Linked DNA regions of Homo sapiens: all the other regions are linked to region 4. Evidence: fine-mapped expression QTL. A gene starts in region 4. Each other region holds a variant in brackets. All regions are shown on one strand. Distances are between the middles of the regions.

What was found.
Region 1: its variant is fine-mapped to the expression of FASTKD2 in whole blood (INTERVAL, PIP above 0.99).
Region 2: its variant is fine-mapped to the expression of FASTKD2 in tibial nerve (GTEx, PIP 0.97).
Region 3: its variant is fine-mapped to the expression of FASTKD2 in whole blood (TOPMed, PIP 0.95).
Region 5: its variant is fine-mapped to the expression of FASTKD2 in monocytes (TOPMed, PIP 0.96).

What each region holds. Positions count from the first base shown.
Region 1 is chr2:206,740,329-206,745,435 of GRCh38, forward strand. MDH1B (malate dehydrogenase 1B) reads right to left here. Exons shown (of 12, transcript NM_001039845.3): 10 at 726-776. Among named protein-coding and RNA genes, the nearest start is that of MDH1B, 22 kb to the right of the region's middle. The variant A/G (reference allele first, on the strand shown) is at 2,578.
Region 2 is chr2:206,710,200-206,715,306 of GRCh38, forward strand. DYTN (dystrotelin) reads right to left here. Exons shown (of 12, transcript NM_001093730.1): 2 at 325-399. Among named protein-coding and RNA genes, the nearest start is that of DYTN, 5.6 kb to the right of the region's middle. The variant A/C (reference allele first, on the strand shown) is at 3,080.
Region 3 is chr2:206,800,578-206,805,684 of GRCh38, forward strand. No RefSeq gene overlaps it. Among named protein-coding and RNA genes, the nearest start is that of MIR3130-1, 20 kb to the left of the region's middle. The variant G/A (reference allele first, on the strand shown) is at 2,944.
Region 4 is chr2:206,763,561-206,768,667 of GRCh38, forward strand. FASTKD2 (FAST kinase domains 2) reads left to right here and starts at 2,046. Exons shown (of 12, transcript NM_001136193.2): 1 at 2,046-2,187; 2 at 3,084-3,910. The coding sequence starts at 3,134. It overlaps MDH1B (malate dehydrogenase 1B), which reads right to left and starts at 1,768. Exons shown (of 12, transcript NM_001039845.3): 1 at 1,690-1,768. The coding sequence starts at 1,711. RefSeq lists enhancers at 1,547-1,686, 1,937-2,316.
Region 5 is chr2:206,853,788-206,858,894 of GRCh38, forward strand. No RefSeq gene overlaps it. Among named protein-coding and RNA genes, the nearest start is that of MIR3130-1, 73 kb to the left of the region's middle. The variant T/C (reference allele first, on the strand shown) is at 2,621.

The sequences.
Region 1 (5,107 bases), 23 kb before region 4:
AAAAGAAAATGTTATTAAGAAAATCATAAGGAAGAGAAAATATATTTACTATTCATTAAGTGGAAATGGATCATCATAAGGTTCTTTATCCTCATTTTCTTTATGTTGACTAGGCTGGGGAGGAGCAGGAGGAAGAGGAGGCATTGGTCTTGCTGTCTTAGGGATGGCAGAGGTGGAAGAAAATCTGCATAAGTGGACCTGCACAGTTCAAACCCATGCTGTTCAAGGGTCAACAGCATATGTGTGTGTATTTATGTAATACATTATAAATTATATATATGATGAGATATATATACACATAATGAGACAAAAAATCCCAGATTTTCCCTGTTAAGGAGAATTCTAACTTGGTTCTCTCGGTCTTTTCCTCTCACCTGTGTTCTGAGGAAGATGCTATCTTGCCCTATTGGTTATTTTGGGCTTCATAATAGAGAATTGAGAAGAAAAGGGAAAGGTGAGAAGCAAGAGATACAAGGGACTGGAGCTGAAGTTAGAGTATTTTGGGAGAGTTTGAGGTGAATATGACAAGGAAGCAGTTTTAGTGCTTTTTAAAAAAAAGTTGACATTTTTATGCCCATTTCAAAGTGTTTGTGAAGCATATGAAAAGAAGCAGTTATTTAAAACTTGCTTTGGTCGCTAGACCATAACATTATTCTCTAACAACTGGACAATATGAGTCACGACTATTAGCAATATAGACATTGTTTATAACCCCACTGACTTACCATCTGACATAGCTAGATTTTTTTCTTCATCAGGGACCAGATCTTTATGTCCTGAAATCAAAATTAAATAAAACATGCTGGATTTAGAATATAACCAACAACCTAACTAGGTCATGAGATGTTCTGAGTCAATGTTTTTCAAACTTCAGTGACTATGACCCACAATAAAAGACACATTTTACATTATAGTCCAATGTGTACATTTGTGTACATATTAATGAAACAAAAAAATACATGAAATAATACTTATCTTTTTCTAATTGTGATGGTTAATACCGAGTGCCAACTTGATTGGATTGAAGGATGCAAAGTATTGATCCTGGGTGTGTCTGTGAGGGTGTTGCCAAAGGAAATTAACATTTGAGTCAGTGGGCTGGGGAAGACAGACCCACCCTTAATCTGGTGGGCACAATCTAATCAGCTGCCAGCAAATATAAAGCAGGAAGAAAAATGTGAAAAGGTGAGAATTGCCTAGCCTCCTAGCCTACATTTTTCTCCCATGCTGGATGCTTCCTGCCCTCAAACATTGGACTCCAAGTTTTTCAATTTTGAGACTCAGACTGGCTCTCCTTGCTCCTCAAGCTTGCAGACAGCCCATTGTGGGACCCTGTGATTGTGTAACTTAATACTCAATAAATTCCCCTTTATTTATACATAAGTATCCTATTAGTTCTGTCCCTCTACGGAACCTTGACTATACAGATTTTGGTACCAGGAGTGGTTCTAGAGAAACAAAATATTAAGGATGGAGTTCTTTTGTTGGTTTTCGGGTTTCTGGAGTTGGCTGCTTAGTATGATTCGACCTCCAAATGCTAAGGACCTAAGGACTCTACTTTTAATAGTATGGAGAACACTGATAGTCCTTGGCATGAACTGTTTAATGAGTTATGCAAAATAAATGAATTTGACACTCCTGATTCACTGCCCATGAGAGGCAGGGAGTTTAGTGACTCTATACATAATACCTTTGACCATATGTGGTGAACAAAGGAACATAATGAAGCTGGTTAGCTGCTCCTAAGTTCAGTGGACAAAGTGATGAAAGAAAATGATGAACTCAGAGATTCTGTCTCCTGGCAGATACTGAGCCTCAAATCTGCAAAGATTGCCCTGAGTGAGTCTTATCTCCTGTAGAGAAAGAGCTGAAATTGTGGAAAAACAGACACAAGCTCTTATTATGTGAGTGGTTGAACTGCAACGAAAAGTGTATGCACAGCCTTGCCAGGTGTCTCCTGTTAAAGTGAGGGCATTAATTGGAAAAGAATGGGATGCTGCAACTTGGAATGGAGACGTGTGGGAGAACCCTGATGAAGCTGGGGACACTGAGTTTGTAAACTCTGATGAACCTTTTTTGCCAGATGGAACAGCTTCCCCATACCCAGTAGTGGCAACATCCCCTCCCTGACCCATGCTGTCATCAGCCTTTCCACCTTTGTCTGAGGAGATAAACCCTGTGCTGCCTGAGGCAAGAGTGACGGCCTCCCCTGAGGCAGTTGCCAGGGAAAATGTTGATTCTCCTCAGTAGCCACCCCTAACACCCTTGTTTGCTTCTAGACCTATAACTAGACTAAAGTCTTGGTGGGCCTCTAGAGGTGAGGTTGAGAGTATGACCCATGAAGAAGTGTGCTACACTCAAAAAGAGCTGCTTGATGTCTCTATTTTTTTTTTTTTTTTTTTTTTTGAGACAGAGTCTCATTCTGTCATCCAGGCTGGAGTGCAGTGGTGCAATCTCAGCTCAAGCTCCACCTCCTGGGTTCACGTCATTCTCCTGCCTCAGCCTCCCAAGTAGCTGGGACTACAGGTGCCTGCCACCATGCCTGGCTAATTTTGTTTTTGTATTTTTAGTAGAGAC[A/G]GGGTTTCACCATGTTAGCCAGGATGGTCTCGATCTCCTGACTTTGTGATCTGCCCACCTCGGCCTCCCAAAGTGCTGGGATTACAGGTGTGAGCCACCACGCCCAGCCGATGTCTCTAATTTATATAAACAGAAATCTGGAGAACAGGTATGGGAATGGATATTAAGGGTATGGGATAATAGTTGAAGGAACACAGAGTTGGATCAGGCTGAATTTATTGACTTGGGCCTACTAAGTAGGGACTTGGCGTTTAATGTTGCAGCTCAGGAAGCTTTCTACTCTGGTCTCATTTCTGCCCTCTCCATTGCACAAAATTGCTCTCATTAAAGTCACAAATGACCTTTGTCATACATCCATTGGGTATTTTTCAGGTATCATTTTATCTGACACACCAGTAGCATCTGACAGTGTAGAACAGTCCTTGTTCTTGAAACACCCTCTGCCTTCAGGTCTTTTACATCATCAGATTCCAGGGACTTATCCTGACTCTCTGACCACCCCTTTCTCATGGTCCTCTGTCAGTTGCTCCTGTTCTACTTAACCATGACAGGCTAAGTTCCTCCAGGCTTTTTTCTCTTACCTTCTCTCTAGACAATCTCCACCATACTGATAGCTTCATTTCTATTTATGAGGCAACAACTCCCCATTTGGCAACTGTAGTCCAGATCTTTCTGAGCTCCAGGAAGTATGCAGTTCTCCATGTGACATTTCCATTTTAGATATCACACAGGTATTTCAGAATCAAAATGTAAGAAATGAAACTCATGCTTTTTCTAATCTGGCACCATGCTTCTTCCTCTTCCATCCACAGGCGTGCATGCACACACACACCCCTCCCACATTCTCATATTTTCTCTCTCTCTCTCATTCTTTTACCATTTTCCCCTTATCAATAGTAAATCTGCCCAGTTGTTCAGCCAGAAGAACCCTGGGATTCACCAAAGCCAATCAGATTCATCAGCAATTCTTGATATTTCCACATCCTAAATATCTCTCAAATTTCTACTGCCTCTGGTCTTGGCTGTATGCACTCCCCCTCAATACCAGTCTTTCTGCAAACAGCCTTGCCTTATTCCAGGATGTTTTTCAAACTAATCCCACAACTGACCAGGTTCTCTCCATCTAGAAATCTTCTGTAGCTCTCACATCTACTCCTCATGGCTGTATCTCTCAGCTCCATCTCTTCTGGCTTTGGCCACATGAGCTTTTCCACAGTTTTTCCAAACAAGTTGATATGTACTTTCCTGCTTCAGATTCTTCCCTTCTATCCGCAGGCATGAGCTCTGACAGCACAGCAGCCAACATTTACTCCTCCCACGCACCACAGTTGCAGTCATCTATATAATGTGTGGCCAGCCTCTTGATGGACTGCAGGTTCCCAGAGGGCAAGATCAGGTCTATCTCATTCACCTCTGTATTTCCAGCTCCTAGCACTGGCTTATAGTTGGTACTGCACACACATTAGCAGAAGGAAGGAATATTGGGCTCCAAAAGACACTTGACTAAAGCCCTTTGCATAAATAAATTGATTTATTTCTACATGTATATATCCATACCTAAGATGAGATCATCTTTAAGGCAAAGAAAAGATGTCAGCCCTCCCCTATTTCTTATGAGTGGAGAAAATACCAATAAGAAAAATAAGCTTCTTGAAATTTGTTGGCTTTTAATAAAGTTATCTAAAAATAAATCTGGTGTTGTGAGTTGAATTGTGTTTCCAAAAAGATATGCTGAAGTTGGCCAGGCATGGTGGCTCATGCCTGTAATCTCATCACTTTGGGAGGCTGAGGTGGGTGGATCACGAGGTCAGCAGTTTGAGACCAGCCCGGCCAACATAGTGAAACCTCGTCTCTACTAAAAATACAAAAATTAGCCAGGCATGGTGGTGTGCACCTGTAGTTCCAGCTAATCAGGAGGCTGAGACAGGAGAATCGCTCGTACCTGGGAGGCGGGGCTTGTGGTGAGCCGAGATGGCACCACTGCACTTCAGTCTGGGCAACAGAGCAAGACTCTGTCTAAATAAATAAATAAATAAATAAATAAAATATATATATATATGTTGAAGTCCTAACGCCTGGTACCTATGAATGTGATCTTATGGGAAATGGAGTCTTGGTGGATATAATCAATTTAAGATGGGTTCAGACTGGTTTAGGGCAGGTCTTGAATGCAATGACTGGTATCCTTAGAGAGAAAGAGAGACTTAGAAACACAGACACACACAGAGGAAAGATGGACATGTGAAGAGGGAAGCACAGGTTGGAGTGATGCAGCAACAAGCCAGGAATGCAAGCAGTGCAACCCAAAGCTAGAAAAAGCAAGAAGGAATTCTTTCTCAAGCCTTCAGAGAGAGTGTGGCCCTGCTGATACCTCACATCAGGTCTTCTAGTCTCCTGAGCTGTGAACAAGTAAATTTCTGTTGTTTTTAAGCCATCCACTTTGTGGTAATTTGTTATGGTAGTCCTAGGAAATTAATAAATATGTTACCTACAACATTTATAAGATCATAGTGTTCATAAGTTGTGTTTT
Region 2 (5,107 bases), 53 kb before region 4:
TTTATTTTGTGTCCATATTGGTATCCTGAAAAGGAAACCAAAAACATTTTCTAGAAGAAGCCAAGTGGAGAAAATATTTAAAAAATTAAAAATCCTCATGCACAATTATTTCTATTGCTCATCAGCAAAACTACACATGGTTTGCCTGCACGTGATGTTTTCCCATCCTCCATCTTCTCTGTCACGAATGGGCTAAATGCACAAGTCCAGACTTCCAGAATCCAGTAGTCAGCTGCATGGGGGGAGTGTTTGTTTTCTCTATGAATTTTACATCGCACATCAAGCTCAGATTATTTCAAATATTTCAGGAGAGCCTATACTTACACTGGCACAGAGTTTGCACTGATTGTAATTTGAAGGCTGTTCTATAAATGGAATTCTCAATACTATTAAGAGCATCTGTAAAGAAAACGTAAAATATTATGAATAAAGTCTCTCTCATTATATAAATCCCACATCATGGAAGGAAATCCTAGAGATCATGTAAGCTTACTTTATTTTGCAGGTGAGGAAATTAAGGTTTAGAGCTCTTTTTTTTTCTGTAAACAAATAAAAATAGACTTACATTATTCTAGGGCTACAGGTGAACCTAGTTCACCTTCTCAGTCCACCAAAAAGTGACGGAATACTCCATCAATCTGTCCACTTTTTATATAAAAAGTCAATGGCCTTTGAAACAAACAGGATAAAAAAAACTACATGTAGAATATAAATTCAAGTTTGCAAATATATTCTAGTTATATGTGGACACATGCATTTATGCATAAATGAAAAAGACTCCAAAGCTATCCATCTACTCATGCATTTAGCCAATATTTATTGAGCCCTTAGTATATGGCCCTGGCATGATTCTAGGCCCTTGAAATATAGCATTCAACTAGATAGATAAAGATGGCCACCCTTGTGGAGCTTAACTTCTAGTACCAACCACCAAACTGTTAACAGTGGACATCTCTGAGTGCTTGAATTATTAGTGTTCGCGGTTATTTTCTCTCTGCTCAATATTACCTAAATTTTCTATAAAAAGTGTAGGCTATTTTTATAATCAGAAAAAGAATTATTAATATACCTTCTTTTGAGAGTTACCATCACCAATAGCAGTACAACAATAGCGAGCATTCCTGAGCACTGAGTGTGTACTTGCCCATTTCACAGTGTAGAGGAGAGGAGAGAGCTCTGGAGCCAGCTATACTTAGTTCTGTTCCTTCCTTTTTCCTTAAAAGTAGTTACTTTTGATCTTCAGTTTCTTCTTCAGATAAATGGGAATTATAACACATTCCTCAAAGGGTATTTGCACATTTTAAATAAGAAAATGTAGGCAATATACTTCCTAAATTGTTTCTCTTACCTTTCTTTTTTTTGTTGTTGTTTTTTGTTTTTTTTACTTTTCTTTTTTTTATTATACTTTAAGTTTTAGGGTACATGTGCACAATGTGCAGGTTAGTTACATATGTATACATGTGCCATGTGGGTGTGCTGCACCCATTAACTCGTCATTTAACATTAGGTGTATCTCCCAATCCTATCCCTCCCCCTTCCCCCCACCCCACAACAGGCCCCAGTGTGTGATGTTCCCCTTCCTGTGTCCATGTGTTCTCATTGTTCAATTCTCTTACCTTTCTTAAGGACCCACAATTTTAAATTTTTTCCATTGATGCTCCAAATTTGATTTTTATTTAATTTAAGAGACTATAACAACGTTACAACGGAGCTTTCTGTTGCTGAAGACTGAAATGATCAGTCTTCATATCTAGAAAAAATAACTATAGAGTAGATCTCCCCATTTAGTCATATTATCTTTAATGTTATTCAATAAAGTTATATAAGATCATACACATTAATAGCTTAGTTTATTTTAGGCAGTTAAAATGGCCTGTTCTAACTGCTTATTGTTGGTATAAACCAGTAGACCTTAAAGTATGGTTCCTGAACCAACCACAGCAGCAACATCGCCTGGGAACTTGGGAGAAAAACAATTTCTAACAAAAGTCTAAGAAGTCGCCAACGTCGGAATCTAGGGGTGAGAATCTAAGGAATAACCTGAGTCTTAGCAGGCCCCGGGGGTAAATCTGATGCAAACGAAAGTTTGAAAACTACTGGTATAAAGGGAATTTATTGCTTCTGCTTTTTATGACTAGTTTGATTATTGAAGGTCTTTGTGACAGCAGTTTCAGTGGAGTCATGGGGGTCAAAATCAAACTGCAGAGGATGGAGCACTGAGTGTAAGGTGAGGAGAAAACATACAACCAGACAACTTTTTCAAGATCTTATAACGTGAAGGGAAGACAAGAGAGCCACAGCTAGAACAACACATAAAATCGAAAGTGGTTTTCAAAGGCAGGAGAGATTCCAGAATGTATGGGTCAGGGAGGAGGAGCCAGGAGAGACAGAGTGGGGTTGAGGACTCAGGAAGTAGGGGATCCAGGTAGTATATGATGTAGCAAAGTCCCTCTCAGAGGGCACATGTTCCCTTAGCCACCCAGCATCCATTTTTCTTTCTCCAGGTGAACCACCTCCCCTAATCTGAGTCCATGAAATTCCAATAGTGTCAACTGCAACTCTCCCACTTCCATGGGGGCATGTGGCCCAGGCCCAGCCCATCAGTGAGAGCACCGTCGCCTTCCCCAGAGGTGGGTACATACCAAAGTCAGGCAAGTAATGTTCCAATGAATCTGGGTTCAAGGACTCTTGGTTCAAGTTATCAGGGAAGCAGAATTTTTTTTCTCGACTTGAATTTGGAATTGTAGATTGGAGCAGAAATCACCCTCTTGTCAGGCTGTGTAGCTTGCGAATGAAATCAACACACAAGGGTGAGCAGAGATGAACTTAGAGATGGAGAGAAACCGCTTCCTGGTGACAATGTCCCAGCCCAGGAAAGCTAGTCCTTCCTTTGGTTATTTAATTTATTTTCATTTGTTTTAATTGACAAATAAATATTGTATTATTTATCATGCACAGCATGTTTCAAAATATGTGTATCTCGTGGAATGGCTACATCAAGCTAATTAACATATACATTATGCCACATATTTATTTTTTGTGGTAAGAATATTTAAAATCTATTCTCTTAGCAATTTTC[A/C]AGAATATAATACATTGTTATTAACTATAGTCACCATGCTGTACAGTAGATCTCTTGATTGGGTTATTAATTTTATAAGGTAACACAGCCTTTTTGAGGTAAGTTTTCTGCCACAATCGCTGAAGTATTGCTAACTGCTCCCATCGCTGTGGTAGAGAGAGGGAGGAAAATGCACAGGTGAAGGAATTAGCTTTGGTAAGAAGCCATCTCTCATTCCCTGAAAGGAAGCATAAAAGGAGATGATGCGCTGGGGGGATGGCCATGTCTGAGAGCTTCTGTTTTCTTTGTAAAGTTGAGGGCATGTTCACACATTTAGAGTTAGGAGGACATGGTGGGGTTGAGGAATAGTGAAGATTTGCACAGTTATAGTGAAGGGTGAAAGAGGAAATCAGTCACAAACTTTGGAAAGAACTGCCAAGCAGTGGTGCATCTCTAGTGTTTCCGGTGATAACAAATTCCAATTAGAGTTTACACCCAGAAACGCTCATTCTGAGGCAAGGATTTCACACACAAGCAAGCTCTGAAGCCAAGACTTACTTGTATTTATGGTGCCCAGAGGAAGAAGTCTTGAGGAAAATGAAACTACTTTCAAATGTAATGTCAGCCGATTAACATAAAACTCAGGCAATGAGGAGTTAGCAGGGTGTGCTGGGGAGTTTTGTGACTAGAAACACAGCCGAGTCTCCAGCCTTGGAACAGGCCCTGAGCAAAAATGAAACAAGGAACTGCTTGGTGTACTTCTTTGATTCAAACATATGTGGCAAGGTCATTTGTGGTGACATTCATTTTTGTCTCGTTCTTGCAGCAAGGGGAGAATTTAAAGAATGGAAAGGCAATGTTTCTGTGTTCATCTTGTAAGTCTAAGCTATTTTCACTCCTCTGGGAGATCTAACAGTGTCTCTGTGTTTAAGGGCCACTCTTTTTTCTTTCTTTTCTTTTTTGTTTTGAGACGGAGTCTCGCTCTGTCACCCAGGCTGGAGTGCAGTGGCGCAATCTCGGCTCACTGCTCCACCTCCCGGGTTCATGCCAATCTCCTGCCTCAGCCTCCCGAGTAGCTGGGATTACAGGCGCACACCACCACGCCCGGCTAATTTTTTGTATTTTTAGTAGAGACAGGGTTTCACCGTGTTAGCCAGGATGGTCTCGATCTCCTGACCTCATGGTCTGCCCGCCTCGGCCTCCCAAAGTGCTGGGATTACAGGCGTGAGCCACTGCGTAAAGACGGCTCTTGAAGTCACCTCCACTCAGGCCTTTGTATGAAAAGATGGACAGGCCCATGAAAGAATTAATCTGGAATTTTCCTGGAGGCGGAGAGAGGCTGATGCCTGGACAAGAAGTTGGGAGATGTCTGACTAAGATTGGGTTTAGGAGGTGTTTCCAGGGCTGTCCTTCCTAGCAGACCCCTGAGTGGGGGAATGAATGGCTGCATGGTGTAGCCAGGGAGACCAGCCACAGGTGTGACAAGGACTTCTGTGTCCAGTCTTGACATGGAGTCCCATGTCTTCAAGTGGAATCCAAAGCCAAAGGCAGAGAGCATCACAAGTGGTGGTCACAATGGACTTCAGTTAGGGCCTTGACCAGTTAGTTGTTCAAGATAGCAGCCTTAGAGCTTTCTGTTTGTCTCCCAGGGATAGTTCCCTCCCAAACTTAACTCAGCCTAAATTTCTTTTTTTTTTTTTCTCGTCTTATTCAGCGTTTCATTAGTAGTGCTAATGTAGCTACTTAGTGCATGTTGAAGGAACAGATGTCTAAGATACTAAGCAGCATTCCAGGCAGAGAACACAGACTGGGCAAAGGCATGGAGGATGGATAAGATGCTGAGCTGCTCACTGTGGCTGGAATGGGAGGTCAGGAATGAGGTAGAAACAGGTGGGAATCAGGGAACAGGCAGGTAGGAACAGGCAGGAGCTATTAGGTCCTTCTGGGTCCCAATCCTACTTTTTGGGGGAGGAACTGTCAAGCCCTGGGTCCTAGGTTTGGATGGATGGAGAAACTGGGTGCCTGTCCAGGATTTCCCAGCCTCCTTGG
Region 3 (5,107 bases), 37 kb after region 4:
CAGTGGCGAGGGGGCGGTGGCGGGTGCAGCTGCAATACTTAAAAAGGAATTCTATTGTGGCAATAAATGAATATGGCAAGAAATGAGCCTGGCAAGAAATGAATGACAATGGCCCCTAGGTGGTGCTGAATCATCATGGAAGTGGAGGCTGGACACTTGGCATTTGCGGAGGTGACTTCCTTCTGGTTTGAATTTCAAATAAGAGCAGGACAGCTCCTTGGGATGTCTGGGAAAAAAGACCAGGCAGAAAAGAGTCTTTTCACTAGGAGCGGGTGCAAAATACTCTTGCCTGTGAGGCCTCTTCAGGTCTTCGGTTTGCTTTAGTTGGAAACAGGAAGCAGGGTCAGACCAACTTGTATTCATTTGCTGAGAGCTGTTGGAGCTGTGACTGATTCTGACAGATCAAATACCATTTATAACACTCCTGTGGGGGACACTTTAACCGGGGATGTTAGTGCTAGCCCCTCCAGAGACTAAGTATGTTTGCGGGATGTGAGGACCCCTGGAATATACAAATATGCATGCTAATGAATTTTAACAAAAATAACCCATTATTGTTTTCTGTGCAACACTGTGCATTTCTCAGCTACACCTGTCCTTTCCAACCTCAATTGCTGGGCAACCTATTTTTCTTTCGGCATCAGAAGCGATAGCATCTGGGAAGTGAATCTGATGAATTCTGCCTGGCAACCAACATCTTTCCAACTGCCAGATCCTGGGGTAAGAAACTGAGATGCTCTGGAGCTGGTTCAGGGCCAGAACGCACCTGTCCTTGAGGGCCTGGTGATGGGGGAAGGAGGCTGGCCAAATGCAGAACTTCTGAAAGTCCACTTCCTGAGTTCATTTCCATTTTGGCAAAATGTGACTTAGGTTTCCAAGGGAAGGAGTTTACATGTATTAAAATGTCTCAGTGGCTGAAGTTGCTTTGTGTCCTCCGCTAAAGCCTCCTACCATCGATTCCCATCTCCAACACGTTTTCAACTGTGGTGTTTTGGGAAGGTAACCATAGCAACTAATCTTATTCAGAAATGACTGGACCTAGGCAGTAAACGGCAAGGTAACCCCATGGTAATTTTCAGTGGAAACCCAATATTGATTCTAACAATTGTACAGGCTGAGCACTGTTAGCTATTTACTAAGCACTGTTCTCCTTTAAGACATTTGATTCTCACAACCCTGTGAGGTAGTCATCATTATCCTCTCTAACACTCGAGAGTTGGCCCATGGTTGTGCAGCTAATTAAATCTGCTGGACCCTGAAATCAGCTTTTTTCTCTTATACAGACTCTGCCTTCTAAGGAAAACTGGAGAGACGCCTTCCGGTGTCTATTTTGCAGGTAGTAAAAGTGAGTCACAGAATCATGGAAATTGTTCAAGGCAACAGCAGAGCTGCAGATCCTCTGCCCTAATCCCAATAATGCCTTTCTGTTATATGTAGAGCTTTAGAGCTCTCAAGATTATCTCATCTATTGCTCACAGCGGGTCTTTGTGATGATTATATCTATTTATAGATGAGAAAATTGAGACATGAAAAGGTTAAATGGCATTTCTCAAGGTCACCAATTACTATATTGAAGAACAAGAAATAAAATCCGTTTCTAATTCTCTGCTGCCTTACTAGATGTGGTGCTTTAAAAATATTTCATCCACTTATCTGTTTCAGAATGTATCAGATACATTAGGTACCATATATTATGTGTGGTTGACAAGATTTTCAGGATTAACTTTAATTCACCAGAGATAAACTTTATATCTAATGAGATCATCTTTATGGAAATACTGTTTATGAGTATAAATGTTTTTATGTGAGAATTATATATTCTAATGAATCTTTAAAAATCCATACTTCATGTGCTATAGATGCAAAATCATAAATTTATCTCTGTAAATTGCCTAAGATGATGGTAGAGAAGGGTGTTATGCTTAAAATTTTTAGCGCTGTAAAAGCTACAATAGTCTCAAGAGAAAAATGGTCAGTAATCTTTAACAGAGCCACCTGCCATGCATGGGGCCCAGTGTATGGAGAGGAAGGGTGGGGGCATAACCCCAATCCCACAGGGTATGTTCGGTGGCTTAGATTTGTTCACTCAGTGGGGTAGAGGCACAACTCATGAAGTGACACCCAGAAGCCTGGACTCCAAGTTCCTTTGAGAGCTTGATGTAGACCCTTCAAACATTGGTCGGGGGTGGGAGTGCGAGGTGAGAGTAGGAGGTGTGGGAAGGTGACTGGAGATAGAAGCCTGACTCTTGCCTGGAAAAGCCCAAAGGCAGAAGGCTGCCTGGAGCTGCTGCTGATGGCAGAGCAAAAACAGGTGGCTGTAAGAAGGCTTTTGGCTTCCAAGTTTTGCAGGGGAGAAGGGATGGCATGGATGCATAATATTTCCTGTGGATTAAACGAATGCTGAAGAAACTAGCAGGCTTGAGTCATCCTGAAAGGCACCTGTCCTAGAGGACGTCCTGCCAAAGCTCAGAAATCTCAGCAAAAAGAGGCTGTATGGGGTCTTCACAGTCAGCCTGAGAGTGCCTTGTGGGGGTCAGGTCAGGGAATGCTGTGGTGTAAGAAAGACACGCCATGGAAAGAGAGGTGGGAGTAGGGGTGTCTCTTAAGAACCCACAAAAGTCACTCATGTGAGGAGGAGCCAGCACTTGAGCATCTAGCACACAAAGGGCATCCTCGCAGACTGCAAGGTCACCAGTGAATAGACCCATTTACCTCTAGTCCCTCCTCCCCACCTGGCCCTGGAGATGCCAGAGGCAGCACAGTGAGCGGGGCAGGAGGAGCAGAAAACAGAGCAAGGGGGGCAAACAGCAAAAGAAGATTCCACAGCCTCCTCCCCCTGCTGCTCATTACTGAGCTGGAAGAAAGGAAGGAATCTTAGATTGGGTGAGAGCTGCATATTTTGAGAATAGATCAGGTGATGAGCTTTTTAATACCTTAAAATGA[G/A]GCTCTGCTAATAGCCATGTGCAACCAAAAATACTCTGGCATATGCCGGAGATGGCCTCTCTGAGGTGGGAAGGGAGAGCTGGCAGAGCCAGTGTGATGGGCAAGGGAGGGAAGAAGATGGAGCTGTTTCCAGCCTGCTGGAGCTACTGACCCAGCCTGTTCAATAAACTAGTGTCCCCTAGTAAGAGCCTTCCAAGTTAATCGAATGAACCCCTGGATTTCTTCTTGCTCTGTCACCCCCAGCAGTGAGGCTCACTCTAGAGTTTAGATCCTGCGTGTTCTTTTTCTTTTAACATCTGGTAGAAAAAGCACCCCCTGGCCTCTTCCACTTGGTTTCACATTTTCACTTTAGAGTTATCACCAAGTAGAAAAGCCACTTTTCCCTAAACTGCAGGCAAGAGCTGCAAACTCCCTCTAGGTGACTTTGTTGGGCCTTCAGAAGGTTAGAATCTGAAGGGAGTAAACATTACAATTAGGAAAAATTATCTCTTACAATAAAACATCCTCTCATACTGTCTGTAATAGCATATAATGTTACATGGGCCCGAACAATATGTATTCATCTGCAATTATTTATGCTCACCAGGGAAAAATTATTTGTTTATTGTTTTAATCATGATTAACCAGCAGTGTAATGATAGGGTGATAATGATAACAACGTGAAGAATGAAATGTTTGAGGTGCAAATGGAAGGCAAGATGCTAACCCTAGATGCTGAAAGTTTCTGGTAGAGCACAGAGGCAGGAAGTCTATTCTTTAGTGGTGTGTGTGTGTGTGTGTGTGTGTGTGTGTGTGTGTGTGTGTGTGTGTGTGTGGTGTGTGTTGGGGGAAACGCATGGTATAGGGGGTACATTTATCCTGAACAAGGACGAGATAGGAGTGGCCCAGTGCTCTTCTGACTTCCAAAGCCTGCTTTGCATTCAAGTTCAGGAGCTTAGGGCTCTCAAAGACTTCTTTTTCCTTCCATTCCTCCCACAGAATGAGAACAAATCCTGGTTAGAGCTACAGGGATCTTCCCAGCTTGTGAAAATTCCCATGTAATTGTTTCTGAGAGGCTGTCTTTCTTTCTCAGAAGTTCCAGAGAATTCCAGCTTCCCAAGGGCTGACCTTGAGTCATCCACACACCCGTTTTCCACCTTCTCAGCTCTGGAACAGGGTTTGGTTCCGTGGCTTATGACTTTCCCAAGGTTTCTGAGCTCGGTCCAGCAAGTAAAATATGTATCCCCTTCACTTAAGGAAGCAAAATTTTGTGGGCAAATTCTCAATCATGGCAAATCTTCATCTTTTGTATCTGGCTTTGGTTTAAACAAATGGTTAAAAGTACCTCCCAGCTAGCTTTGGTGAATGAAGTTGATAAAACTAAGTTACATTCCTTTTGATTAAATATAGGCATGAAGAGTTAATTTTTCTCTTCAGATAAGAACTAACTCAGAAGGCAGTTCCAGAAGAAAAGTGCATCCAAATATTTTGAACAATGACAGCATCATGGGAATAAGTGTACGGCATGTCTCCCGGGAAGAGTATTTGAAGCCCAAACCAACAGATACCACATAAAATACAACAATAGCCACTATCTTTTAAGCATTTTCCTCAAAGGTTGATTAAATGAAACACTTCAACTTTGGGGTAAGTATTATTAATGCCCACTTTATAGATGAAAAAATTCAGACTTAGACTTATCAGCCATGTGGCTTTGAGCAAGTAATTTAAATTTTTAGATTTGATTCCAGAGCCATATATCATATATGATATAACTTTGTACCAACCAAACAGAAAGCAAGTCATTTTCAAACAAATGCTTTATTGATTTTCTCTTATTTATATACTAGGATATGAAGTTAACAATACATTTTACATGGGTACCTTTCTGTCAAGTTGGAATGAATTTCCGCATGAATAAGAAAGGCCCATTTTCTCTTCATTTTTGTATTTTGAATAGTAGAGAGGCAAGGGAGAGAGAAGGAGGGCCACTGGGCTGAGAATCAGGAGACCTGGGTTCCAGCCACTGCCTCTGTCATTTAAATTCTCTAGGATGCCTGTTATTCCAGCACTTTGAGAGGTGGGCAGATTGCTTGAGCCCAAGGGTTCGAGACCAGCCTGGACAACATCGTGAAACCCTGTCTCTACAAAAAAAATACAAAAATTAGCTGGACTTGGTGGCATA
Region 4 (5,107 bases):
CTCCCCTTCTAAAAACCTTTCATGTACTCTGGATAAAGTCTAAACTACTGAATGTGGCTCAAAAGAATCTACATTATCTAACTCTAGCCTCACCTTATGAAATTCTCTTCCTTGTACTATTTGCTTCAGTCCTAATAAACTTATTTCAATTTTATACTTATTTTATATTCTCAATTGTCACCAAACTAGTTCTCCTTGCTCTAACCCCACTCCCAGTTACCCATGCCTAAATTGCTCCCCTCCTTTCTACCTCTTCTCTGTTAGGTAATTCATTATCATCTTTCAGGTATCTGCTTAAAATCTCTCCCTCTGGGAAACCCTTACCTGATTAAGTAAGGTCCCTGCTATCGTTCCTATAGAACCCTGCCCTGTCAGTGTCATACATGCAACATTCTCTGTGTGTTTTCCACTGACTTCCCACCATGTGGTTAGTCAGTGTTCAAAAATATTCTTCTGGGCCAGGTGTGGTGGTGCATGCCTGTAATCTTGGCACTTTGGGAGGTCAAGGTGGGCAAATCACTTGAGCGTAGGAGTTCAAGACCAGCGTGGGCAACATGACAAAACCCCATCTCTACAAAAATACAAAAATTAGCTGGGCATGCTGGTGTATGCCTGTAGTCCCAGCTACTTGGGAGGCTGAGGTGGGAGGATCGCTTGAGCCCAGGAGGTCAAAGCTGCTGTGAGCCACGATTGCACCACTGCAATCCAGCCTGGGTGACAAAGTGAGAGCCTGTCTCAAAAAAAAAAAAAAATCTCCTGTGGATGGTAGATGTCAATTGTGTTCAATGCATCAAAGAGATCAAATAAGTCAAAGACTAAACAGCTTCTATAAAAGTCAGTGGTGACTTTGGTGACAGCAGTTTCTGTCAGGAAGCAGAAGTAGAAGCCTTCTTCCAAGACTGATTGGAAGGCAGAACTGGAGATGGAAGAGCAGTCTACTCTTTTAAGAAACTTTACGAGGAGAGGAGGTAGGTACCATGGATTGTTGTAATAAAAGCCTTCTCAGTTGAGTCCTTGCTGTCAACCAGCACTTTCAATCATTCTCTCCGTTGCTGCCAAGACAGGCTTCCTAAAATGCAAACTCATTAAGACTACTCTCCTGCTTAAAATTTTTCTATAATTCCTCATTGCTTTCAGGATACAGTTCAAACACCTTTGCTTGACCTACATGAAATGCAAGGACCTGGCTCCTGCTCCTGTTGTAGCCCCAGGTCCTGTCACGCCCCACATATCCAGATCTTCTGTTAGGCCAGGAAGCTTCCTGCCTCTCTGCTTTTATTTGGAATAGCCTCCTCAGCTCACACCTTCACAACTCAGCTCCTGTAATACCTTCCCCAGCCAGTTCCTTGTGTCCACCTCTCCCTCATCCCCCAAACCCAGATTAGGAGTCTACGCTCCCAGAGGCCTGTGCAGGTCTCCTTCATCGCGTTAATCACACCGTATCAAAAGTACATGTTCTGTGCCCCATGAGACTGAAAGCTCCTCTAAGGCAGGGATATGTTTCCCTCCATTGCATCCCCAGTGTCCCACAATGCTTGGCGCACCGTCACGGTCCAGTAAAAAACTTTGAATAAATCTATAGCAAAGCATGGAGCGGTCCGTATAGAGGCTGCCAAGCCGAGCGGCCATGGGAGGTGAGCTGTTGTCGGCGTTTTGAGCAATCTGCGGGCGGACGCGGGGATCACTCACCCGCGATGACGAATTTGGCCATGGTCGAGAGAGACTCAGAGGCAGGGACCGCGGCTTCGCGGTTTCCTGGCAACCACGCAGCCAAGGGCAAGGCGCAGGCGCACTACAAAGTCTGGCGCCCAGCAGAGGTTAGGTGTTTAAAGTTAGGACCTGAATGGGTTACGTTGCGATACACGATCAAACATCGCCCTTATAAGCTCTGTGGTATCCCCGAGCCCCACTCCTGTATGCAGGGAAATTAGTCATTCTCCTTGGTAAACTTTCTTCAAGTAAGTCCTTCAGCTACAGCCGCGAACATATGCTTTTTGACCTTTGAGGGAATCCGTAAGATCTCGTGAGAAGCGCAGCTTCTCGGGGAAGCTGTCATGGCTGCTCCTGTACGTAGTCACGGTCTTGTGCTCTAAGGTGAGTGGAGGACGAGCTTGGGCTTAGCGGCAGCCCGTATCACATCCTAGACTTTTTACTTCGAGGAGAAGAGTCTCACGAGTTGTCCTGGAAGTAAGTTTAAAGGAGGTGGGTTAATGCTGGGCGGCCCAGCTGCGGAAGGACAGGCTCTTGAAGTTGGTTCTGGGGTCTGGTGAGGCTGGCTGGTTGTATAAGATCTTCCTCTTAAGCGCAGGCCACGTGCAGACATCGCTTTCGTTTTCTGCTTCTTCCACTGAGCCGTTCTACCTGCCCAGGTCCCTATTCTTGATGGTCTGGGTTCGGCCGTTGCTAAATCGTCATGTTGAAAATGATCTATCAGCCGGGCGCGGTGACTCACGCCTTGGGAGGCCGAGGCGGGTGGATTACCTGAGGTCAGGAGTTCAGGACCAGCCTGGCCAACATGGTGAAACTCCGTCTTTACAAAAAATACAAAAATTAGCCGGGCGTGGTGGCATACGCCTGTAATCCCAGCTACTTGGGAGGCTGAGACAGGAGAATTGCTTGAACCTGGGAGGTGGAGGTTGCAGTGAGCCAAGATCGCGCCACTGCACTCTAGCCTGGGGGACATAGCAAGACTTTGTCTCAAAAAAAAAAAAAAAAAAAAAAAAAACAGAGAAGAGAAAAGAAAATGATCTATCAATGCTAATCCCCTAATTTTCACCGAGGACATTTCCATAACAATGCCAACAAAAGTCTCTCCTACAGAGAAAGCTTTATGGAACGCTTTTGCACCAGAAAAATCTCATTAATACAATGACTACTTCCAAAGTGACCTGGCTTCTTTGAAACTGGACACATTGTGGTAGATTGGAGGGAGCCCACATTGGTAAAAAAAACTTTTACTGTTTTATGTAAATGTTTAATGGCTCCATAGGTTCCCCATTTTCTCTTCTGTTAAATGCATTTCATTTCTTTAAGTAAAAGTTTTGTTTTAATTTTTATTCTTTTCATTACTTCTTCCCCTACAGGAAAACGACAGCACGTGTTCTTTTTCACTAGTAGAAGTGACGTTGGTTTCATGTTGACAACTTTGAAGCCATTTGGAAGTGTTTCAGTGGAGAGCAAAATGAATAACAAAGCGGGCTCCTTTTTCTGGAACCTTAGACAATTCAGTACATTAGTTTCAACAAGCAGAACTATGAGGCTATGTTGTTTGGGACTTTGCAAACCAAAAATAGTTCATTCAAACTGGAACATTTTAAATAACTTTCATAACAGAATGCAATCAACTGATATCATTAGATATCTCTTTCAGGATGCATTCATTTTTAAATCAGATGTTGGCTTTCAAACAAAGGGCATAAGCACTCTAACAGCCCTTAGAATTGAAAGACTACTTTATGCTAAAAGACTGTTTTTTGACTCAAAGCAGTCTCTTGTCCCTGTTGATAAATCTGATGATGAATTGAAGAAAGTAAACCTTAATCATGAAGTCTCCAATGAAGATGTTCTTACCAAGGAAACAAAACCAAACCGTATCAGCAGTAGAAAACTGTCTGAGGAATGTAATTCCCTGAGTGATGTGTTAGATGCATTTTCAAAAGCGCCCACATTTCCTAGTAGCAACTATTTCACAGCAATGTGGACAATTGCCAAAAGACTGTCTGATGACCAGAAGCGCTTTGAAAAACGACTGATGTTTAGCCACCCTGCATTTAATCAGCTCTGTGAACATATGATGAGAGAAGCCAAGATCATGCAGTATAAGTACCTACTGTTCAGTCTTCACGCCATAGTGAAGCTTGGAATCCCTCAGAACACTATTTTGGTGCAGACTTTGCTGAGGGTGACCCAGGTAAAATAAAAAGGAGATTTAAACATGCATTTACTTGATTTAGAATATTTTGAAAGAATGAAGGGATATAGATATGTAGCCTTCTTAAAAGAGACTATCAAATGGAATGGTAGTTTCCTTTATATTTATTTCTGCATATATATTATATGATTTAGAGGCCTTAAGTTAGCTATTTTCTTCCTTTTGCTATGGAAATTTATGAAAGCCTTCCACATTTACCATCCCCAGGGTTGAGTAGTGGTGAAGAAGCTAAAGTGAGGAGAGATGCAAGATATACAAAGAAAGCCTGGGTAGTTGAAGAAGGAGAGAAGGGAAGGGGAAGGAAGAGAATTTAGTCCATGGTAGAATTGGAATTCAGGCCCAGTAGATGATACCTAAACTGATGAGCAGAATGATAGTGAAGGGGATGGTGTTTCAAGTAGAGAGGATTGCATGCCCTACTGTTCCCAGAGGAAAAGTTTGGCAAATTTGAAGAGCTGAAAGTAGTTTGGTGTAGCTGAAGCACAGAATGATGGAGTTGTATGTTTGAGTGGGTGGGAACAAGTTTTGTACATGGCGATCAAAGGAGAGGAGTGAGGGGCAAGAGGCTTAGGGGCAGAACAAGAGGCCAGAAAAATAGGAACCAAATCATAAAGAGCCTCTTACGGCTAGCTAAGGAGTATGCATTTATCCTGTAGGCAATGGGAATCCGTTGAAGAATTTTAAGCAATGGGTTGACGTGCTCAAATTTGTATTTTAGATCACTGAATGAGTGGAAGATGTATTGGAAGAAGGTTAAAATTGGATGGAGGGAGCCATTTTTAGTCTAAAGCAAGAATGTCAGTGTCCTGTTTAATGTCACTGAAATGGTGCCAAATGTAAGGAAGGAAGGATTAGCTTGTTAATCATTTATGTTTTAAGAGTGTACACTTCTGACGTATAAACTCAGTGATAATGAAGTAATTTCTTAGCCAGGTGTGGTGGCTCACACCTGTAATCCCAGCACTTTGGGAGGCCAAGGCAGGAGGATCTCTTGAGCCCAGGAGTTTGCGACCAGCCTGGGCAACAAAGGGAGACTCCATCTCTACAAAAAATACAAAAATTAGCTGGGTGTGATGTACTTGCCTGTGGTCCCAGCTACTTGGGAGGCTGAGGTGGGAATATCACTTGAGCCTGGGAGGTCGAAGCTGCCGTGAGCCATGATCGTGCCACTGCACT
Region 5 (5,107 bases), 90 kb after region 4:
ACCCTGCCAAAGGCCCTCCCAAAGTAAGCATATGTCTCTTTATTTCCAGCAGAGGAAATTAACAGCACCAGACTTTCTTCATTATTAACATGAACAAATGGTGGCTTCGGTCTGTGATCTATAGCTGTAAGATAAGCTGCTATGCTGTATCCCAGGAATACACTGGAACCTGGTTTAGGGACGCAAGGTGGGGACTCAGGATAGCTGAATTGCTTTTGGCCACTCTTAGATTCCTAATCTCTGGTGTGACGTGACACTTCAGAAAAGTGGGCCCTAGTTTTCTCCACTGCAAATTATGAAGTGAGATTAGATCAATGATTTATATCAGCAGTTGCACATTTTTTTTCTTATAAAGAGCCAGATCATAAATACGTAGGGTTTGTGGGCCATATGGTCTCTGTAACAACTACTCAGCTCTGCCATTGTAGCTTGAAAGCAGCCATAGACAATATAAAAATGAATTGGCATGGCTGGGTTCCAAAAAAGCTTTATTTGCACGTGCTGAAATTTGAATTTAGTACAATTTTCATATCTCGTGAAGTATTGTTCTCATTATTTTTTTCAACCATTGAAAATGTGTAAAATACCTTCTTAGTTTGCACGTTGTAAATAGCAGTGGTGGGCTGGATTTTGGCCTATGGGCTATTATTAGCCAATCCCTGTTCTCTATGGTTACATCAAAGTATAAGGTTTCTATATATGCCCTATTTCCTTACAGGAAACATAGAATGGTTTTTAAAAGTTCAACAATAGTATATTTTCTAATGTTTGTACATTTAATAATTTAGTTTTAAACACAGCCAACCTGTATGGATAAGACTTATGTTGGTTATAAGGGTGCTTACTTTTTGGTAACAAAGATTTGTGGAAAAACTATAGGACCAAAATTAATTAGCTTCCCTGACACTCCTACTATGACTACAGATACTTTAAGGAATTACTTTATCAATTCTTATGTTGTCACACAGACGGATAAGAAGTTACAGTATTAATATTTTTAAAACTTTTTTTTTTAAGTGAGAAAGAGCTGAACAGATATTTCTACATCCATGTTCTGACAGCATTATTCACAATAGCCAAAAGGTGGAAATAACCCAAATGCCCACAGGTGAATGGATAAACAAAATATGATATATACATACAATGAAATATTATTCAGCTTTAAAAAGTAATGAAATTATGATACATGTTACAACATGGATGAACCTTGGAGACATTATCCAAGTGAAATAAGACCGGTACAAAGAGACAAATATTGCATGAATCCACTTAAATGAGAACCCAGAGTAGTCAAATTCATAGAGACAGAAAGTAGAATGGTGGTTGCCGCAGGCTGAGGGAGGGAAAAATGGGGAATTGATGAATGGGCACAGTTTCAGTTTGGAAAATGTAAAAGTTCTGAAGATGGATGGTAGTGATGGTTGTACAGCAATGTAAATGTACTTAATGAACTTAAAAATGGTAAAATGGTAAAATGTATGTTATGTCTATTTTACCACAACAGTTTAAAAAAGGAGAATAATAGAACAATGAAATAGTTGACCTAGCATCACACAAGACAGAAAGAAGATCGGAGTCAGCTGCAGGACTAGGACCTGGGATAGTAGTGCAGGGCTCTTTGACCACAAGATGACTGTGACAACTTTAAGATCTTTCTTTTGAGCCCTTTGTAATGGGCACTTTGCAATATTATTTCAGAGAATCTCAACTGACATTTTACAGAGGAGGAAACAGAGGTTCATTTGTCAAGGAACCAACAGGCAAGGTTGGGAAGCAAACCCATGACTGTGCTTCCAAAGCCTTTGTCTTGACCACCACAGAACACCACTTCCCCGAAATTCTGAAGCCATCTATCTTGGAGTAGGGAAGCCTCTGCCACTGAATGCAGGTTTTTCAGTGTAAATCATGGAGCCATTGCTACCCCTGAAGGCGAGAGGCTCCCGTAACTGCGCTGCCTGAGTCTGGGCCCGCGGCACAGGACCTGGTGCTGTTGGTTTATGGTAAAGCAGGAAGGTGGTGCCTCGTGCTGGCAGATGATGCTGCGGGCCAGGTTCGTTTGTGTCTTCACTCTCAGAAGCATGGCTAATACAGCCTTTTAACTCACAGATTCCCACCTCAAATGTTTACATGACACCACTAAATAAAAAATATGTGCATGCTCTACCTCCCCCACTTGACTGTAAGGTAAAGGCAGGAGCTGGGCCTCTTTAATATTTATACCCTCCATAAGCTCACCCTGTGCTAGGGTTTGCATCAAGTAGGCACTCAGCAAATATTTGTTGAATGAATGCATAAATGAATGTTAAATCATCTGCCTCCAGATTTTCCTTTTGTTTCCAATTTTCCCTTCCATCTGACATATGCAAGTGCCTCCCGTGTCCCTTTCACAGATATTACAGATGCCCTCAACTATTTTTTGTGTTCTTCTGGCCTGCTTTTTCTCATTGCTGCTGCAACAGACTGAGGGCCAAAAATAGAAACCTCCTTGACAACTTTGCAGAGGACTTACATTCCTGATTCCTAAGGTAGCAACACTGACTCTGTTGGAGCAGGATGGGAATTTCATGACCTGTCACATATTTGATTTTGCCTGATTTTTACAAGGGATAAAAGTTTTCCC[T/C]GCATGGTGGTTGATGCAACTTGCAATCACCCTTGGAAGTTAGGGTTTGGGACAAATAGAAGAATGTCATCAAACAGAGGAATGTCACCACTTGTCTTAAGGATGCTTCCAAATTCTTGAAAAGGAGACAGAATTTCTTTTCCTTTCTCTTTTTCTCCTTCACTTCTTCCCTCCCTCTCTCCCTCCTTCCTTCTTATTTTATTTCTTTCCCTCTCTGGATATCTCTGGTTTATGGCAGGGCCCATGACTCATATGTGTTTTCAAGCCAGTGCATATTATGAAGACACAAGACAAGAATGTGTATAAACACATACTCTGCCATAATGCTGATTTCTTTGGATTAAACTGGGGGAAAAAACAGCAACAGACACTGCCTCAGTCTAGAATTATCTGTAATCCATATACATCAGCACATGGTTTCCAGTATTGTGTTATGGGGAATTAGAGAAGAGACCTGGCTCCTTCTCTCAGGGATACTACAGTATGCTAAGAAGATAGGACAGAGATAGAGTTAATAATACAAGTTAGCATCTAAGTGATAAGTGGGTACTAATAGAATCTAAATAGTCACTCTTAATAAAAATCATTTCCATTTATGCAGTGCTTGCTAAATTCTAGATACCATGCTAAGAACTTTATATCCTTAGCTCTTTTGAATTCCAACCATAACCCACAGCCTCAGTACACAGGTGTGGGGAGGCAGTGAAGTGCAGTGGTTGGTGCCAGGCTATGGAATCAGACTGCAAGGTCCTGGTCCCCGGTGTCTCTTGGCATTCCCTACTGCAGAGAGAGAATATTCCTTCCTAGACATTGAGTCATTGTGCCAGCGTCTGCTACCAGCCAGGTGACCCCTTGAGCGCAGATGCCCCTCTCTCTGTTTCCATTTCCTTGTCTATAAAATAAGGATAATCACCGTGGAACTTACCTTATAGAGTTTATATTAAATGAGATAATGTAAGTATAGTGCTTAAAACAGTGCCTGACATAAAGTCAATGACCTATAAATATTAGATTTTATGACCGAGGCTCAGAGAAGTTAAATAACTTGCCAGTGTTCACTCAATAAATTTATATCAGAATGAGAATTCACACTCAAACCTGACTGATCCCAAGGCCCTCTGATCTTAACCACTTCACAGTAATGGTTGTTCAGAGAGCAGTAAATCATTATGGATTAGTGTAAAAAGGGGGAAGATTTACAGAGAATGTGAGAGAGTTTGAAGGATGGAGTAGAATTTATTGAAAAAGAAATGGTGACTCTAGGCTTCAATGTAGAAAAATCTAGAGTTAACAAAGTGCCTCTCCCCATTTCCTTTGCCCAGCAACTACCTCTAGATTTCCTTTTTTTCCAATGAAGAAGACACAGCAGCTAAAATGCTCATCCCTGGGGATGGACAAAAATGCTTCCTGCCCTTCCCTAAATCTCCTGCAGTGGTGCTCTGGGTCATGGTTTCTTTTGTTTTATTTTAGGTTTTACTTGCTAATGTGCATGTGAATTAAAAAAATCTAATATTTTAGCACTTAATTATGTAACTCATTTATTTAAGTTAGAAACAATGTTTGTAAATGTGGTAGGAAGGGTATACCAGCTCTTCTCTCTTTGAGAGAACTAGGATCCTCTCAAAGTTAAGGAAATAGGGAAACTCTGTGTATATATGTATGCATTATTTTTCCATCTCCATCTAGGAACACAACAGAAGTTGGGGAAGCAACCACTCTTGGCATTAGAAGCTACAGGAGACTGGCTAGCACAAATTCAATCTTTGTAGTTCTCAGAGATTTGCAGATTATATTTTACATTTTCTAACCTTAGCATTGACCACAATAAGGGTCTCTCCTTCCTTTTCCATGTTAACCCTTGTAATATGCTTTGGCTATGTCCCCACCCAAATTTCATCTCAAATTGCTCCCATAATTTCCACGTGTTGTGGGAGGGACCCAGTGAGAAATAATTGAATCATGGGGGGCAGTTTCCCCCATACTGTTCTTATGGTAGTAAATAAGTCTCACAATATCTGATGGTTTTATAAGGGGTTTCTCTTTTTGCTTGGCCCTCATTCTCTCTTGCCTGCTGCCATGTCAGATGTGCCTTTTGCCTTCTGCCATGATTGTGGTACCTCCCTAGCCACATGGAACTGTGAGTCCATTAAAATTATTTTTCTTCATAAATTACTCAGTCTCGGGTATGTCTTTATCAGCAGTGTGAAAACAGACTAATACACCTTGGGCTCAGAGTCTTTAACAGACTGTGTGGAGAGAGGATGGATCACGTTGTCGGGGGTTGGGGATGGAACTTAGGGAAGGGAGGGGAAGGAAGCAGCCTTAGCAGGGCCAAAGGACTGTGGGAGAAGAAGCACAACTGTGGGAGAGGCTGTGGGGAGCCACTTCGTGCAAACAGAGCAGGGAGGAGGAAGCCTCTAGCCCCTACTTGGGTGAACTCCAGGAGGCCTCAAATAGACTGGGGGGCCACGCCCCAGAGCAGGCGAT